Regions from separate parts of the Homo sapiens genome. Here region 2 is linked to region 1. The links come from fine-mapping of genetic effects on gene expression. Tissue or cell type: monocytes after R848. Region 1 holds a variant in brackets; the other region holds the start of a gene. All regions are shown on one strand. Distances are between the middles of the regions.

Region 1 (8,267 bases):
TCCAAATGGTCTGCTATGGTCTGAATGCTTGTGTCCCCTCCAAAACTCATGCTGAAATCCTAACCCTCAAAGTGACGGTGTTTGGAAGAGAGGCCTTTGGAAGGTGATGAGGTCATGAAGGTGAAGCTGTCATGAATGGGAAAGAGAGATCCCTTGCCCCATCTACCATGTGCAGACACAGCAAGATGCTATGAGCCAGGAAGCGGCCCTCTTCATCAGAAACTCAACTTGATCTGGACCTCCCTGCCTGACTTGATCTGGACCTCCCTGACTTGATCTGGACCTCCCTGCCTCCAGAACTATGAGACATAAATGCTTGTTGGTTACAAGCCAACCCAGTTTATAGTATTTTCTTATAGCAGCCCAAATGGACTAAGACATGACTAACACAAGATATTACGAAATCCATTCAGTGCTTTAGGCAGACCAGTGGATTTCAGTGTAAAGGTAGAAAAAGTTTATTGGTACACTTCAGAAGCCACATTGTAACTAACCTTTTTAAAAAAAAAAAACTGCCTCTTGGAGTTTTCCTATATAGAGTCAAAGAATTATCTCAATGGTCTGGAAAGCCTATGAGAATATTCCTCTCTTTTCCATCTACAACTTTGTGATGTAGCCTTTCACCATCAGGCAGAGAAACACTTTACTCAAAACAGTGTACTGCAACAGAGTAAGTGCAGAAGCAGGCAAGGGGACCAGATTGCCTCTGCTGAACTAGACATCAAAGAGGTCAAAAGTGATGTGACACTACTTTTCTTAGTATTTTGTTTTGGAAATATAGTTATTTTTTATTTAAAAAGTCAGTTATGTTACATGTAAAAGGTTTATTATTGTTGCTTTAAAATGAATATTTTAAAATCTTTTCTAATTAAAATTTCTAATACAGTAAATATAAATAGATATAACAAAAATAAAAGCTTTCTGAGGTCTTCAGTATACTTTTCAGTTCTAAAATTTCCATTTGGTTCTTCTTTATATCGCCTATTTCCTTGTTGAGACTTTAAATGTTTTCATTTGTTTCAAGCATGTTCTAAATTGCTTGCTGAATCAAGAGGGCTGTTTAAAACTCTTGTCACATAATTCCAACATTTGTACAATCTCAGCCTTGGTGTCTTCTGCTGAATGTTTTTTCTCATTTGAAATCTCTGAAAGTTGAGATTTTCCTGGTAATCAGTGTCGATTAGATCCCGGACATTTGAGGCACTACCTGACGAGACTATGGACTTTATTTATCTTGTTTAGCAGGCCTCACCATGCAAGCAGAGAAACAGGTGCATCCCCTTAGCCACTGAGTCGGGGAGGTCTAGGTCCCCTGCTTAGCCTCTGACATCCACCTGGTGGGGAGGGGGACTAGCTCCTCATTACTGCTAGCCCAGGGTGGAGGTCCTGGGCCACCCCCAGTCCGCACCACTTTGCAGATGGGGTGGGACGGACCTGCTGACTTCTTTGCGCCTGGCACTGGAGTGAGGCAGTGACGGTCAGAGTTCTGTCTTGCTGGATTGGACTGTCTTCCCAGCCTCCTGGTTTCCTTGGGGCTTTTTGTCTCTGCCTGATGGTGAAAGGCTTCAGGTTTCTAACGCGCCCAGTCCAGGACAGACAGGAGACAAAAAGGAAACCTGGAGACTCCCTACACGTGACTCTGAGCCCCATCCCCCTCTTCTCTCCACCTCCCATAGCCATGCCGGCCTGACAACTCCCAGGGTTTTAACTGTTTCTAGCAGGCACAATAGGGTGAAATCCATTGCATCCTGACTGGAACTGAAGTCAACAATCATTTCTAAAACTGTAAAGGGGTCGTCCTAAAACCAAAAGGTTGACAAATGCTGCTCCATAATGGGGACTTCCGTGGGTCCCCATGGGGACGTCGCCTCCATAAAACCCAGGATCTCCCTTCACCCCAGGGAAGCCCCCTCCTACTGCCCAAATCTATATGAAGCTGAATTCTTTTTGGTGGGGGAGCAGGCCACATCTTAAAGGTAGAAGAGATGCAGAATAAGCTCATTTGTTGTTGTTCCACTCACTTCATAAAAATAACACATACCATAAATGGTTAACCACAAAATGGAACCTCTCCCTCTATATGAACAGTGTGGAAATCTGAGCAAATGTTTATATAAATCTGTTGGTGTTAACCCAGAAAGAATAGTCAATATCTTTCTTTTGCTCCCTATACCAGACACATCTCAACTCCAATTTGCTCCTCAAAACTTCTGGGAAGAATGACATGAAATTAAACAACAGATAGTCACCAAGTTTTAGTTTTAAAATAATAATGACAGCAAATTAAACTTACATTATTGGCAAACACTCGAAGGTCAAGCGCTACTGCATACATGACAGGCAGAGCCCTGCAGGGCAAAAAAGTAAACAAGTGTGAGGGGCTACGTGGGCCAAGATTCCATCCCCAGAGGTGGGAAGAACACGGACACCCAGGGCTACTATCCAGAATGGAGTCCGCACTTATCCAAAACTCTGACAGTTGTCTGCTTCCTCACCTTCTGTCCAGGCAGGCTGCAGGCCTCAGACTTCCTGATCATCCTGGGGCCCCACAATGCGGTGCTCCACACCCCTGTCCCCAACCCTGTCAGAGACCTCAGCCCTGCTTCAGTTCTGGGCTCCCAGGATATCCTCCTCCCCTCAGCTTCCCACCAGTATCCAAACAGCACCACTAAAAAAGAAGTGGTTTGATCAGATTTCCTAACAGGAACCAGAATATGTAATACACAAAATGTCACAAAACAACTTTTACAGCCAACTGGCAAAACTGGACTGTTTTCATGTGCAAGTTTTCACGTTAAAAGATAAAAGGGTGGCGGGAGGCAGAGGCTGCAGTGAGCCAAGACTGCGCCACTGCACTCCAGCCTCGGCGACTGAGCAAGACTCCTTCTCAAAAAAAAAAAAAGATAAAAGGGCGGGTTTGTTTGCAAAAGGCCTTTGGTTATTTCAGTATAAACAAATTTCAGTATTAACCTATAGTTTGTTAATAAATCATAAAATTTAGTTTGGCAAGGCATTTAAAAATACCACCATTATTATGTATTAGAACACCCCAAATGAACCGTAGTTGGTCTACCTCTTTTATCTAAGGTTTAAAACCAAAAGTTCAAAATTGACAACTGAAGGAAAAAACAGTATTTAATAAATATCTAGGGAAATGGACATCTGAAATAAAAATAATACTATATTGACATAGACACACTGCAAACAATGTGGCTGATCTACCATTTCAGTTTACTAGATTTGTGACTCCACTCATCTGTGTAGATATTACCATATGTCAACACACTGATTACCAAATATCCACATGGAAAATACAATACACATTTATTTAAAGCAAATTTGTAAAAAGATTCTGCTAAAAAAATTGCCATTTGCTAATTCAGCTGTTTCTGTTCACACTTACCAGTTTTCTTCTTTGTGGGCCTGGAATGCTCGCAAGAATGATGTACTGTATTAAGGAAGATATGGCATACAAAGTTCAAATAATGCTACGTACGATAAAAGTAAAGAATAAGAATCTAAATTTTAAGGAATGTAGATCACCCTTGAGCAGATTTATGTTGCAACAATAGTAAGTTCTTGAAGGAAAAAAGGTATAAGCTCACATTACAAATATCTGTATCTCATTAGGCTCAAGTATACTAAATACACTTATTTCATACACACTGTCTCCTAAATAAAAAAGACTTACAAGATTTTTTAAAATCAGCCCTTTCTGACATTTTATTTGGTTTCTCTGAGCCCAGATGATCATGAGTTATATTTAAGTGCTTTAGAATCTGTAGCATAAGGCTGATTTTATCAACTCTAGAATTCTTGAATTCTAAGGAGGCTGTGAGCAAATAGCCCAACTCTCTTCTGTGTATATTTAAACAAGGTGGTTAAAACGAAAAGACAAAATCTAGAGATACATACAAATCCTTAGCACACTCACTGACTCAGGCCGTAACTAAAGATACCCTTTAAATGACTGAAGTATGAATTGGTTTGATTTAAGGTCTTCAGCTGCCACAATTCAATGCCGATGTACATCTGAGGCCACTCTTGTCCATCTCTGCCTGAATTCTGGATTTCTGGTATTTCACCAACAGGACTTAACCAGTCCCTGTAAATATACTTACTACCTTACTAAAGGCAACAAAGCATTCTTCTTCTCAGCAGAGTAAGATCCTTCTTCCTAACCAGTGTTCTTCCTTACTAAGTACTGCACGAGTCTTCAGATCCATGCTAAATTTAAGTACCCAAGTGAAAGAGCTGAAACGAGCTTCTGTTCCAAAACACTGTCATTCCTTTCTAACTGCAGAAATGAGCAACTGGCCCAGTGTTTCCGGGTCTCAAGTCCCAAGTAATCCACTGCATGTGTTCTATGCGGGACAGCTGCCATGAACGACAAAGGATATTGGACTATCACGGTCTGGCACTTGTATGCCTCTATGAAGTCATGATTCCCCACTGCATAAGTGCACCTGGAGGAGAAACAGAAACATGCTGTCACACAATAAAAACCTAGCACTAGTTATGCAGCCCACACAGCTCACTTCATTGCACAGGTCCCAGTGGTCCTGGGATGAAAGGAGTGAAGGAAGAAACACACAAATGGCTGAACACAAACAGGTGAGGATAAGAGGAAGTCCCACAGTAAGCTTGGAGACTACTCTTTCAAGTCCCAGAAGGACCTAGCACCAGCAGGTTTATGAGTAACACATGTTGATAACATAGTATGACCCTTCCACTCTAGCAGGGGCTGACAATGACATTCAAACTAGATTCCCAGCTGGGTAATGTCAGTGTTAGTTCATCGCCAAATCTGGAACCTATCGCACACTGCACAGAGCTAGGAAATCACAGGTGCTTTGTACTACAAGGAACACGGTGGTGCCCCAACTCTTCCAAAGACCCTGTGGGGTTCACAGAACATTCCTGCTCACAGACCCCACACTGGTCCTGTAGCCCAGGCTGCTCTGAAAGACAGTAATCAAATCTCACATGGCTATAAGGACACAATCTTCTGCCTGAACTGATCCTTTAGAGATAAAACAGTAGATATGAAGTGTACATAAAAAGTAGCATTGTTTGCTTTGCTCAACTCTAATTTCTTTCCCAGTAACGTAAAGAGCTTCAAAAACAGACATATTTCCACGAAAAGGGTAAGTGAACAGTTCGGCTCCAAACTCTACTAAAAAGACCACT[A/G]AGCAGGCACTCTGCTAAATACTGTGTGATGTTAAAAATAGTATTATATAACTGATGTTTACAATTTCCACAGGCTTTACCAAACTGAAGTTACAAATGCATTTTCCCACTTTTTCAAAGTCAGTTATTCACTGCTTCAAGCACAAGATAATGCAAGATAAAATCCCCAGTTAATTCAGCAATTTCCAGATGTGTGTGTTTTTCTTCCTCCCCAACAGATTACCTTAAATGAGCTGCAAACATTTCATCATAAGGGGGTTCCAAGACTTGTTGACACTTCTCCTCTGGAGAGGCCATCTGATTTTAAAAAAGAAAAATAGCAAAAGTAAAATTAATAGGCACAGAAAGAATGCAACATATAGAAAGAGATTTAAACCTCTGTTTCAAGAGAATTTATGCTTTACAGTTCACAGTAACACTTTATATTTACCACTCTAAATAAAAGGTTCAGGCCGTGAGCACAGTGGCTCATGCCTGTAATCCCAGCACTTTGGGAGGGCGAGGTGGGCAGATCACTTGAGGCTAGAAGTTCAAGACCAGCCTGGCCAACATGGTGAAAGCCCGTCTCTACAAAAAAAATTACAAAAATTAGCTGGATGTGGTGGTACACGCTGGTAATCCCAGCTACTCAGGAGGCTGAGGCATGAGAATCGCTTGAACATGGGTGGGGGAGGTTGTAGTAAGCCAAGATCGTGCCACTGCACTACAGCCTGGGTGACAGAGGGAGACTCTGTCTCATAAATAAATAAATAAATAAATGGTTCATTACTTCAACAAATATTTATCAATATTTCAGGGGAAAAAGAAGCCCATGAATATAATTTGGTCTCGCCTTCTGCAAGTCAGAAAATATTCTAGGCACTTTCATATACATTTCAGTATATTAGTATTCTTGACCAGTCAGTCAAGAAATACTTGTTAAGTAACTGTCATAGGTTTAGTAAGTGAGGTCTAATGAGTTACAGATGGTGCTATGTTAGGACTCGTTCTTCTCGGCTTCCTGCTGAGACCACCAGTCTCATCTCCTGGGCTAGTCTAGCTGACATTTCTTTCTAAGTTTTCCTTTCCTCCTAACAGTCAAATTTTAGATAATCTGAACATCTCAACAGGTGATGGTTAATTTTGCCAACTTGACTAGCTGTGGAGTCCCCAGACAATGTTATTTCTGGGAGTGTCTGTGAGGGTGTTTCTGGATGAGACTGGCAGTTGCACTAGTAGACTCAGGAAAGTAGATGGCCCTCCTCAGTGTGGACGGGCAATGGCCAATCTGATGAGGGCTTGAATAGAACAAGAGGTCGAGGAAGAAAGAATTCACTCCTTGTGTGGGATTTCTTGACCTCTACAATCACAGGACCCAGTTCCTCATACTAAATCTCTATAAATATTGATATATCCCACTGGCTCTGTTTCTCTGGAGAACCCAGACTAACACACAATGGATTATAAGCACACTGCGTTTTTTTGTTTTGTTTGGTTTTGTTTACAAAAGCAATGAGCCCATGCTGATATGGTGAGAGAGAAGAATGACAGTATCAGAAAAATCACCATTCTACAGTCCCTGGTGAATGAAACCACCGAAAGAAAGTTTACTGGGGAATTTTACAATGAAGGGATCTGTCTCAGATTGCAAACAGGACAGTGTGTGTCCTCTCATGTCATACAATACAAAGCACAGGGCACCAGCCATGGGGTGTTCTGGCCAAGGCAAGCCTGAGTCTCATCGAGTCTCTAGCACTAACTCCTACTTAGAGCAATGGTTTTCAACACTGTCTACACATAGAATCACCTAGGTAACTTTATTAGAAAAACAAAAACAGGCCTGCTGCTACTTCAGAGACTGATTTACCTGGTCTGAGTTGCAAGTCTGTACACCGCCAAACATAATCACCAATAGATAAGCCCATTTTTCTTCCAAAAGAAAAATGCTGCTTCCAGTAGGAACACACTCCAATATGATAAAGGGTGTCAATGAGGAAACAGGGCTTTACCAAATGTCCACAAGATTTTCTATAGAAAATACTGCCTCAACATCATCTACGCCACAGATGACATGGAAACTCCATGTACAACCCCAGGCTGGGCCTTGGCTTGCCAGCCTTTCTGACTAACAACTTAAATGGGAGACACCTGTGGTACATGACGTCTATGGGGCTTTGGGGACGCACAGGCCTAGACAGAATCTAAGCTCCACCGCCTCTCCACCATCTAACTTCTCTAAACCTCAGAGAGCTGTCTAGGAATCAAACACAAGGGCAGGAGGTCCACATCACCACAGTGTGCGTACATAGTCAGTGCTCCACAAATGGATTGAAATTACATAAATCATAAAGAAACTTTAAAATTTTCAAATAAGAGTGACAATATTAGTTTTCTTCTTACTCAAACTCTACGCTTCTCTTAGGAAAGTGGTTACCCTGTAATTGTCTGCAGACACCTGTGTGCACAGCTCTTTCACCTACTTGAAGTCGTGGGTTTGCAACATGAGGATGTTTAAAAGACACCAACTCTGCACAAGATGCTCCATCTCTGCTGTCGATGGCTTCGTACACCTGAAACATTTGAAAGGGAAACCTAAGTAGAAAATAAAATATTCTGTTCGAATAGAACCTACAACAATACACTGAATGCCACACAGGGGAAAATTCATTTTCCCCTACTTTGAAAGAAGACAGAACAATCAAAATGTAACAGATGGTCACTACTCTCTGCAGTGGGTAAACAATAATTTCTTTTTTTTTTTTTTTTTTTTTGAGACGGAGTCTCGCTCTGTCGCCCAGGTCGGACTGCGGACTGCAGTGGCGCAATCGTAAACAATAATTTCATTTCAAAATAGGTTGTTCCTGGCTGGCTCAGGCCTGTAATCCCAGCACTTTGTGAGGCTGAGGAAGGACTGCTTGAGCCAGGAGTTCGAGACCATCCTGGACAACATAGCAAGACCCGTCTCTTTAAAACAGACCAAAAAAACAAAAACAGATGTTCCTGAAGCAAAAAAACAGGTTAAGCAAATAAAAATAAGTCAGTGGTTTATCATGTAGCTCTTCATGAAGATGAATTATTCTAATTTTACTCAATCACAC
Region 2 (8,267 bases), 75 kb before region 1:
ACCGTGCTCTCAGCCACTTTCCCATGCCCAAATAAAACGATAAAAGACTGGGGGCTTCTGCCCATCCTGCCTCACTTGACCAAGAGCCCAGAAGAGGATGCGACACCCAGGGCCTCATGGGACCACCGGCTGGCAGGGGTTCTGCTCACTGGGTTTATGGGTGAGACGAGCACTCCCAGGAGGGCCACTGGGCCGGGAAGAACTGTGGAGAATCGGGGCACGCCCTGTCCTCCCAGCTGCCAGGGCACAGCATCCCTTCCCCACCTCAACACCCAGACCCCAGATTCACCCCAGTTCACTTGTCCCCACACGAGCCACAGGCTGCCACCTGGGGCAGGCTGGCCCCACCTTGGGGTTAGATGCAGGTCCCCTTGCCCCAGAAGGAGACTGCAGCCCCTGCAGACCTAGAAATGGCCACAGCCCATCCCCATGCACCAGGGGGTGAGGTGGCAGGTGGTGGAAAGGGCCTGAGGGGGGCTTCTTCCTTCCAGGCGAGCACGACCTCAGCGAGCACGACGGGGATGAGCAGAGCCGGCGGGTGGCGCAGGTCATCATCCCCAGCACGTACGTCCCGGGCACCACCAACCACGACATCGCGCTGCTCCGCCTGCACCAGCCCGTGGTCCTCACTGACCATGTGGTGCCCCTCTGCCTGCCCGAACGGACGTTCTCTGAGAGGACGCTGGCCTTCGTGCGCTTCTCATTGGTCAGCGGCTGGGGCCAGCTGCTGGACCGTGGCGCCACGGCCCTGGAGCTCATGGTCCTCAACGTGCCCCGGCTGATGACCCAGGACTGCCTGCAGCAGTCACGGAAGGTGGGAGACTCCCCAAATATCACGGAGTACATGTTCTGTGCCGGCTACTCGGATGGCAGCAAGGACTCCTGCAAGGGGGACAGTGGAGGCCCACATGCCACCCACTACCGGGGCACGTGGTACCTGACGGGCATCGTCAGCTGGGGCCAGGGCTGCGCAACCGTGGGCCACTTTGGGGTGTACACCAGGGTCTCCCAGTACATCGAGTGGCTGCAAAAGCTCATGCGCTCAGAGCCACGCCCAGGAGTCCTCCTGCGAGCCCCATTTCCCTAGCCCAGCAGCCCTGGCCTGTGGAGAGAAAGCCAAGGCTGCGTCGAACTGTCCTGGCACCAAATCCCATATATTCTTCTGCAGTTAATGGGGTAGAGGAGGGCATGGGAGGGAGGGAGAGGTGGGGAGGGAGACAGAGACAGAAACAGAGAGAGACAGAGACAGAGAGAGACTGAGGGAGAGACTCTGAGGACATGGAGAGAGACTCAAAGAGACTCCAAGATTCAAAGAGACTAATAGAGACACAGAGATGGAATAGAAAAGATGAGAGGCAGAGGCAGACAGGCGCTGGACAGAGGGGCAGGGGAGTGCCAAGGTTGTCCTGGAGGCAGACAGCCCAGCTGAGCCTCCTTACCTCCCTTCAGCCAAGCCCACCTGCACGTGATCTGCTGGCCTCAGGCTGCTGCTCTGCCTTCATTGCTGGAGACAGTAGAGGCATGAACACACATGGATGCACACACACACACGCCAATGCACACACACAGAGATATGCACACACACGGATGCACACACAGATGGTCACACAGAGATACGCAAACACACCGATGCACACGCACATAGAGATATGCACACACAGATGCACACACAGATATACACATGGATGCACGCACATGCCAATGCACGCACACATCAGTGCACACGGATGCACAGAGATATGCACACACCGATGTGCGCACACACAGATATGCACACACATGGATGAGCACACACACACCAATGCGCACACACACCGATGTACACACACAGATGCACACACAGATGCACACACACCGATGCTGACTCCATGTGTGCTGTCCTCTGAAGGCGGTTGTTTAGCTCTCACTTTTCTGGTTCTTATCCATTATCATCTTCACTTCAGACAATTCAGAAGCATCACCATGCATGGTGGCGAATGCCCCCAAACTCTCCCCCAAATGTATTTCTCCCTTCGCTGGGTGCCGGGCTGCACAGACTATTCCCCACCTGCTTCCCAGCTTCACAATAAACGGCTGCGTCTCCTCCGCACACCTGTGGTGCCTGCCACCCACTGGGTTGCCCATGATTCATTTTTGGAGCCCCCGGTGCTCATCCTCTGAGATGCTCTTTTCTTTCACAATTTTCAACATCACTGAAATGAACCCTCACATGGAAGCTATTTTTTAAAAACAAAAGCTGTTTGATAGATGTTTGAGGCTGTAGCTCCCAGGATCCTGTGGAATTGGATGTTCTCTCCCTGCCACAGCCCTTGTCAATGATATTTCACAGAGACCCTGGGAGCACCTGCTCAAGAGTCAGGGACACACGCATCACTAAATGCAAGTTCCCAGGCCCTGGCTGCAGTGGGAGGACCTGGCAAGCTGCACTCTTGCTGAGTCCCCAGGGTGGTGGAAGAAGAATGAGAAACACATGAACAGAGAAATGGGGAGGTGACAAACAGTGCCCCCACTCAGACTCCGGCAAGCACGGCTCAGAGAGTGGACTCGATGCCATCCCTGCAGGGCCGTCCTGGGCACCACTGGCACTCACAGCAGCAAGGTGGGCACCATTGGCACTCACAGCAGCAAGGCAGGCACCAGCAACCCACCTCGGGGGCACTCAGGCATCATCTACTTCAGAGCAGACAGGGTCTATGAACTACAGCCGTGGGCTGCTTCCAAGGCACCCTGCTCTTGTAAATAAAGTTTTATGGGAACACACCCATATTAGTGTCCATGGAGTGGCCGTGGCAGAGACGTCCAGCCGGACAGACCAGCTGACCCGCCAAGCCCAGCATGGTTAGTGTCAGGACCTCTGCTGAAGATGCTTGCTGACCCTGGCCAGACCCCGGTTCCTAATGCCCCCTAAACGGGACGGGAGCCAGTGGCGGGCCCTGATCCAGGTCAGAGCTGGCTCTGCTTTCTCTTTTGTCCGAGTGACCATGCCTCAGTTTCCTCATGTGTAAAACAGGAGCCCACCGTGATGCTTATGGTGGGATGAGATCAGCATGGATGGAACAAGGCCCTGGAAGGGCCCATGCCATGGTCATCGACAGCAAAGCCACTCTGCAGACAGATGCTTCAGTGAATTGGTAGAAAATTCTGCAACCAGAATGCCCGGGGCTCCTGAGGGCCTAAGCCCAGCCCAGGGTTCTGGAAGCCACTCTGACTTCTTGGGAGTGGAAGTTGGCAGGACTCTTCCTGGGAAGAAGCGGAGGGTGGGGATGAGAGGACAGTTCAGGAGCCCACCCAGACCCACAGGAGGAAACTAGGGGAGTCATGCGGGGTCCTGGTGGAGCGCCAGCCTCCCTTCCTGCCAATGGGAAATGCAGGCGCCCACCTCATGGTGCTGCCGGAGGAGGGGGCCCGGGACTCCCCAGAGGCTTCGCTGAAGGGCCTGGGCGCCCCCAAAGGCTACATGTTTCATATGGGACGTGCCACCTGCCACGGCTCAGCTCCAGCTTTCTGTGAGTGGCGAGATAGAATACGGGGAGGCCACTGGCCATGGGCCTGGGACAGGGTGGGATGAGGCGGCAGGCTTGGGCCACCAAAGCCAGCATCGCCACCCAGCATTGATGACAAAGACTGCGTGTCTGCCATGAGCATCCTGCTGTTGGTGCACACACCGCATTGGTCTCTCCATACAAACATGCCTAGAGGCGATGTCAGAGGGTGGAGACCAGGAGAGGCAGGAGTCAGACATCTGGTGCCACCAGGAAGGCCCTTCTCAGAGGACCAGGCTGTGCGTGGTGCCCGCCGTGGGAGGCCAGCCTGGCGTTGGCATCCAGCATCATCAGTTTGTGCAGTCGGGTGGGGCTCAGTGAGTGCCTCCTGTGTGCCAGGCACAATGACGCACAATGTGTGCACACCAGGCTCATGTGCAGGTGGCTGCGAGACAGGGCGACCCATCAAGGCAGATGCACCATGAGGCAGTGGCCAGTGCTGTGGGTGTTAGGGGCATTGCTCCCCGGCCACTACGGCATAGCAGGCAGTGATCGCCACACTGGCCAAGCTTTAGACCATTTATTCCAGAGACCCCAGAGGCAAAAAGCCCGGCTGCACCTCCCAGTGACTCCCACAGCCATTGAGCAGAGACACTCAGGACCTTGTGATGGGAGGTTTCTGCACTGGAGAACGAGCCCAGAAGCCCTCTCAGCCTCGGAACAGTGTGGCCAGTGGTGGGCAGGTCAGGAGGGGCTTCAGACACAGCCTGTCCCTCCAGATGGTCACGGGAAGGTCACTCCCCACAGAAGTACGTTTTGGGGCCATGCGGGCACAGAAGGTTTGGGGGTGGGTGGGGCAGGTGCCAGCCTGGCCTGTGGGAGGCCATGGTGCAGATGCCAAGCCCCCCCCGTGACATGAGACCACCTGATACCACCCAGAGAGTGGCTGTGAGCGGAAGGGCCCGCCCAGAAACAAGCAGGGCCTTGGGGCAGAAGTCCTGGGCTCAGATCCCACGCTCACTGCCAGCGGCCTCGGCTCAGGCTTCTGCGCTCTCTAAACTTAGTTTTCTCTTCTGGAAAAATGATGGGGAAAATGATATTTGTATGTGAGGACTGAGAGTTAAATGTAAACATCTGGAAACTACAAAATGAGCACGAAATGATGTTTTTATTCTTAGAACAGAAAGTCCCCACACCCGCGGCCCTGGTGACTGATGAGGATGAGGTTCTGCGGGGCCTCTCTGGCCGCCCAGCTCTGCCTGGGGAAGGTGGGGCCAGAGTGGATGTGTTCCCAGCGTGGTCACTCCCCTGCCTCGCCAGCAGGTCTCGGCTCCAATCAGGAGGCCTAAGCCAAGTGATAAGCAGCCAGACAACAGCCATCCCAGCTGGGGCGTGGACTTTGCTCCAGCAGCCTGTCCCAGTGAGGACAGGGACACAGTACTCGGCCACACCATGGGGCGCCCACTGCACCTCGTCCTGCTCAGTGCCTCCCTGGCTGGCCTCCTGCTGCTCGGGGAAAGTCGTAAGTGCCCCTCGCCCTTCAGACCCAAAAGCAGCGCCAGGGAGCAGGGAGGGGCGGCAGTTGGGGAAACCCTCTCATCTCTGCAGCCTGGACGGTGGGTGCCTTGAGTGCTGCCAGAGGCTGGGCTCGGATGGCTGGGCTTGGCCTTTCCAGCCAACGGCATCCTCAAGGCCAGCTGTGGCTCCCTGGGGCTGAGAGTCAGACGGGCGGATCAGAGGTCACAGAGACAAAAACACAAGGACAGAGTCAGAGAGAGAAAGGGAGAGGGAAGGAGAAACGGAGACACAGTGAGATGGGAGGCCAAGAGGCAGAGACAGAGGTAGAAAGACGGAGACAGAGAGAGAGGGAGGGGTTGGGGCAGGCAGAGACAGGACAGTTAGCCATCTGCCACCACAGGGAGGCACAGGACGAGGGGCACAGCAGAGGAGCTCCCAGGGAGGAGGAGGCTGAGCCGAGCCAGTGCCACCACTCTCGGACTGGCTCCGTCGGGGAAGGAGCTGCCTAATGCACAGCTGGACAGGTGGGGGCAGCAGGGCTGTCCAGGACCCCCGGGTCTGTCCAAAAGCAGAGGCCCAGACAGGACAGAAGCCAGGCAAGCCTGGGGACAGCGGAGGAAGAGGAGGCCCCTCTGGTGGGGACACGAGAGACAGGGACCCTAGACTTGTTTGCATCCTGGACAAAGTGGACAGGCAGGGGCACCAAGGGGACCCAGGCCTGGGAAGGGAATGTGTGAGGGAGAGACGGAGCAGGGGGAGACCCTCGTGGGGTGGAAAGGGGAGACCCCTGGGAAGGCTGAGTGGATCCTCAGTGCATCACTGACCTAAACGGCCCCTCCGCCTGGTGACTTGGAGCTCCAGTCACATCACACGGGGGTCTTCTCCATCCCACCCTCAACCCCCTGCCCTCCCCAGCCTCTGTCCCCTGAGCCACATCTTCCTGTCTCCCACGCGGAACGGGACTCCCGTCTTCATGGGGTACTGTGTGGCTCCAACTCGCCCAGCCTTCTTCCTCCCCCTCAGGCCACACTGCCCCCTGCAGGAGCCCACTGTGATGCTTGTGGTGGGATGAGATCAGCGTGGGTGGAACAAGGCCCTGGAAGGACCCATGCCATCATCATCGACAGCAAAGCTACTCTGCAAACAGACAGATGCTTCCGCGAATTGGTAGAAAATTCTGCAGCCGGAATGCTCTAGGATCCTGAGGCCCTAAGCCCGGCCCGGGGCTCCCGAGGCCCTAAGCCCGGCCCGGGACTCTGGAAGCTGCTCTGGCTTATTGGGAATGGAAGTTGGCAGGACTCCTCTTCCTGGGAAGAAGCAGAGGGTGGGGATGAGAAGACAGGCCAGGAGCCCACCCAGACCCACAGGAGGAAACTAGGGGAGTTATGCAGAGTCCTGGTGGAGCGCCAGCTTCCCTTCCTGCCAATGGGAAATGCAGGCGCCCACCTCGCGGACCTCTGGGTCCACAGGGTATTGGCACCCTTAGCTGTGTGATGCGGGCCTGGCTCATAACCATGGCCTGTGGTGTCCCCGGGGGCCGGCCTGGACCCTGGGTGGACATGGCCAGCCCCGGAGAGCCAGGGCCAGGCCATCTCTCTCCCCTACTCTGCCTCAGAGGCCTCGGCAGCTGCACTGTGGGGTGGGTGGGGCTGAACACAGGTCCCAGAAGGTCCCACTCAGGACCCTGCTGTGCACACTTTTGATTTTAATAAAATCAGAATGCGCACAGCATCTGCAGTCTAGCCTTTAAACGAGCACAGCTGTCCTGGCAGTCACGGAAGTTCTTCTGGGGCGGTGGGACCTCAGCATTCCTTTGCTGGTACTGCTACAAGAAAGGACAATGGACCAAGTAGCTTAAAGCAACAGAAACATTTCTCCCACAGCTCTGGAGGCTGGAAGTTCAAAATCAAGGCGTCAGCGGGGCTGGTTCCTCCAGAGGCTGGGAGAGAGTCTGCTCTAGGCCTGTTTCCTGGCCTCGGGGTGCCAGCGGCCTCACAGCCCATGGCTTGTGGGAGCATTGCTCCCATCGCTGCCTCCATCATCGCATGGGGTTCTCACCATGGCTGTTTTTCTGTCTTCTTTTCTCTCAGAAGGACACCAGTCATTGGATTTAGGGCTCACTCTACTCCCATAAAATGTCTTCCTAACTAAATACATCACAAAAGTTCTATTTCCAATTAAGGTCAGGTTCTGAGGTTCTGGGAAAGACATGAATTTGGAGGGACATTATTCAGCCCTGTCCTGCCACCTGTGAGTGTTTTCTGCAATCCAACTTTTTATTTTAATAAAATCAGAATACGCAGAGCACCTGCAGTGCCAGCCTTTAAACTACTGCTGTTGTACTGGCAATCATTAAAGCTACGTGGCTTCAGTTTCAATCTTTACATTCAACAAGTTTAAACCCATTCTTCATGAGTTTGGACCTTACTGACTGAAAATTTTGCTTGCTGGTAAAACTTGCTCAAATGCAGTTGCTGACTGTGGAATTCACTGATGTTGCCAAAACAACAAACACAACTGTGTGCTCGAGGATTGCAATGCTCCCAACAGCTTCTGAAGAAACAAACCACACGACAAATGTCTACCAATCTGGATGCTCCATATCAGAGTTCTAGAGTGTTCCATTAATTTCTTGAGACAAGTGCCTAAAAACCTTGTTTTAATTTCGTTTTGCCAAAATCCCATTTTACTCACATCAGAAAGTGTGGCCACGTGGCCCAGACCCGGCCTGCTCAGTCTGACTGAAGCGTTGATGCGACTCAGCCATAACAGATAGCAGAAGCGCCCAGATTCAGTCCAGAGGGCTGAGCCAGGCACGCCATCTTTCCTTCATTCCCTCAACACATATTGGTTAAGTTCCGGCCGTGCTAGGCACGGGCATACAGCTGTGACCAAACACGTCAAGTCTTTTTCCAGCGGAGGGAAGGATAAGCCTGTCAGCATGTAATGTCAGAGAGGGGTTGGGTGCTAGAAGACAAATAGCACAGTGTAAGGGGATGAAAGAGACACGAGTGGGGGCAACGTCAGAGGGCGTGGTCAGGGAGGGTGTCTCGGAGGGCGCTGGGCCTGAGCCACTTGGGTATCTGTGGAAAGAATGTTCCAGACAGGGAGGTGACTGGTGCAAAAGTCCTGGGGTGTGAGTGTTGGGCTCAGCCAGGGTCAGCGCAGAGCCCAGTGTGGCAGAGAGAGGTGAATGAGGGCAGAGTTGAAGGTGGTGAGGCCTGGGAGGCCTGGCCATGGGAAGACCCTGGGCTCTGTTCTAAGACC

Which allele goes with the higher level. Positions count from the first base shown, and alleles are read on the strand shown. Sizes are in standard deviations (SD) of each study's normalised expression.
For the expression in monocytes after R848 of the gene that starts at base 4,878 in region 2, G is the high allele of the variant in region 1 and A is the other (large effect, 1.2 SD a copy in Quach 2016).

What was found. PIP is the estimated chance that this variant, and not a neighbour inherited with it, causes the effect.
Region 2: F10 starts here. The variant in region 1 is fine-mapped to the expression of F10 in monocytes after R848 (Quach 2016, PIP 0.95). The same link has a PIP of 0.9 or more in monocytes, monocytes after LPS and monocytes after Pam3CSK4.

Annotation. Positions count from the first base shown.
Region 1 is chr13:113,192,778-113,201,044 of GRCh38, forward strand. PCID2 (PCI domain containing 2) reads right to left here. Exons shown (of 14, transcript NM_001127202.4): 2 at 7,650-7,739; 3 at 5,414-5,487; 4 at 4,401-4,466; 5 at 3,404-3,445; 6 at 2,294-2,348. Among named protein-coding and RNA genes, the nearest start is that of PCID2, 12 kb to the right of the region's middle. The variant A/G (reference allele first, on the strand shown) is at 5,191.
Region 2 is chr13:113,117,922-113,126,188 of GRCh38, forward strand. It overlaps F10 (coagulation factor X), which reads left to right and starts at 4,878. Exons shown (of 8, transcript NM_000504.4): 1 at 4,878-5,004. The coding sequence starts at 4,935. F7 (coagulation factor VII) reads left to right here. Exons shown (of 8, transcript NM_019616.4): 8 at 492-2,764. The coding sequence ends at 1,087.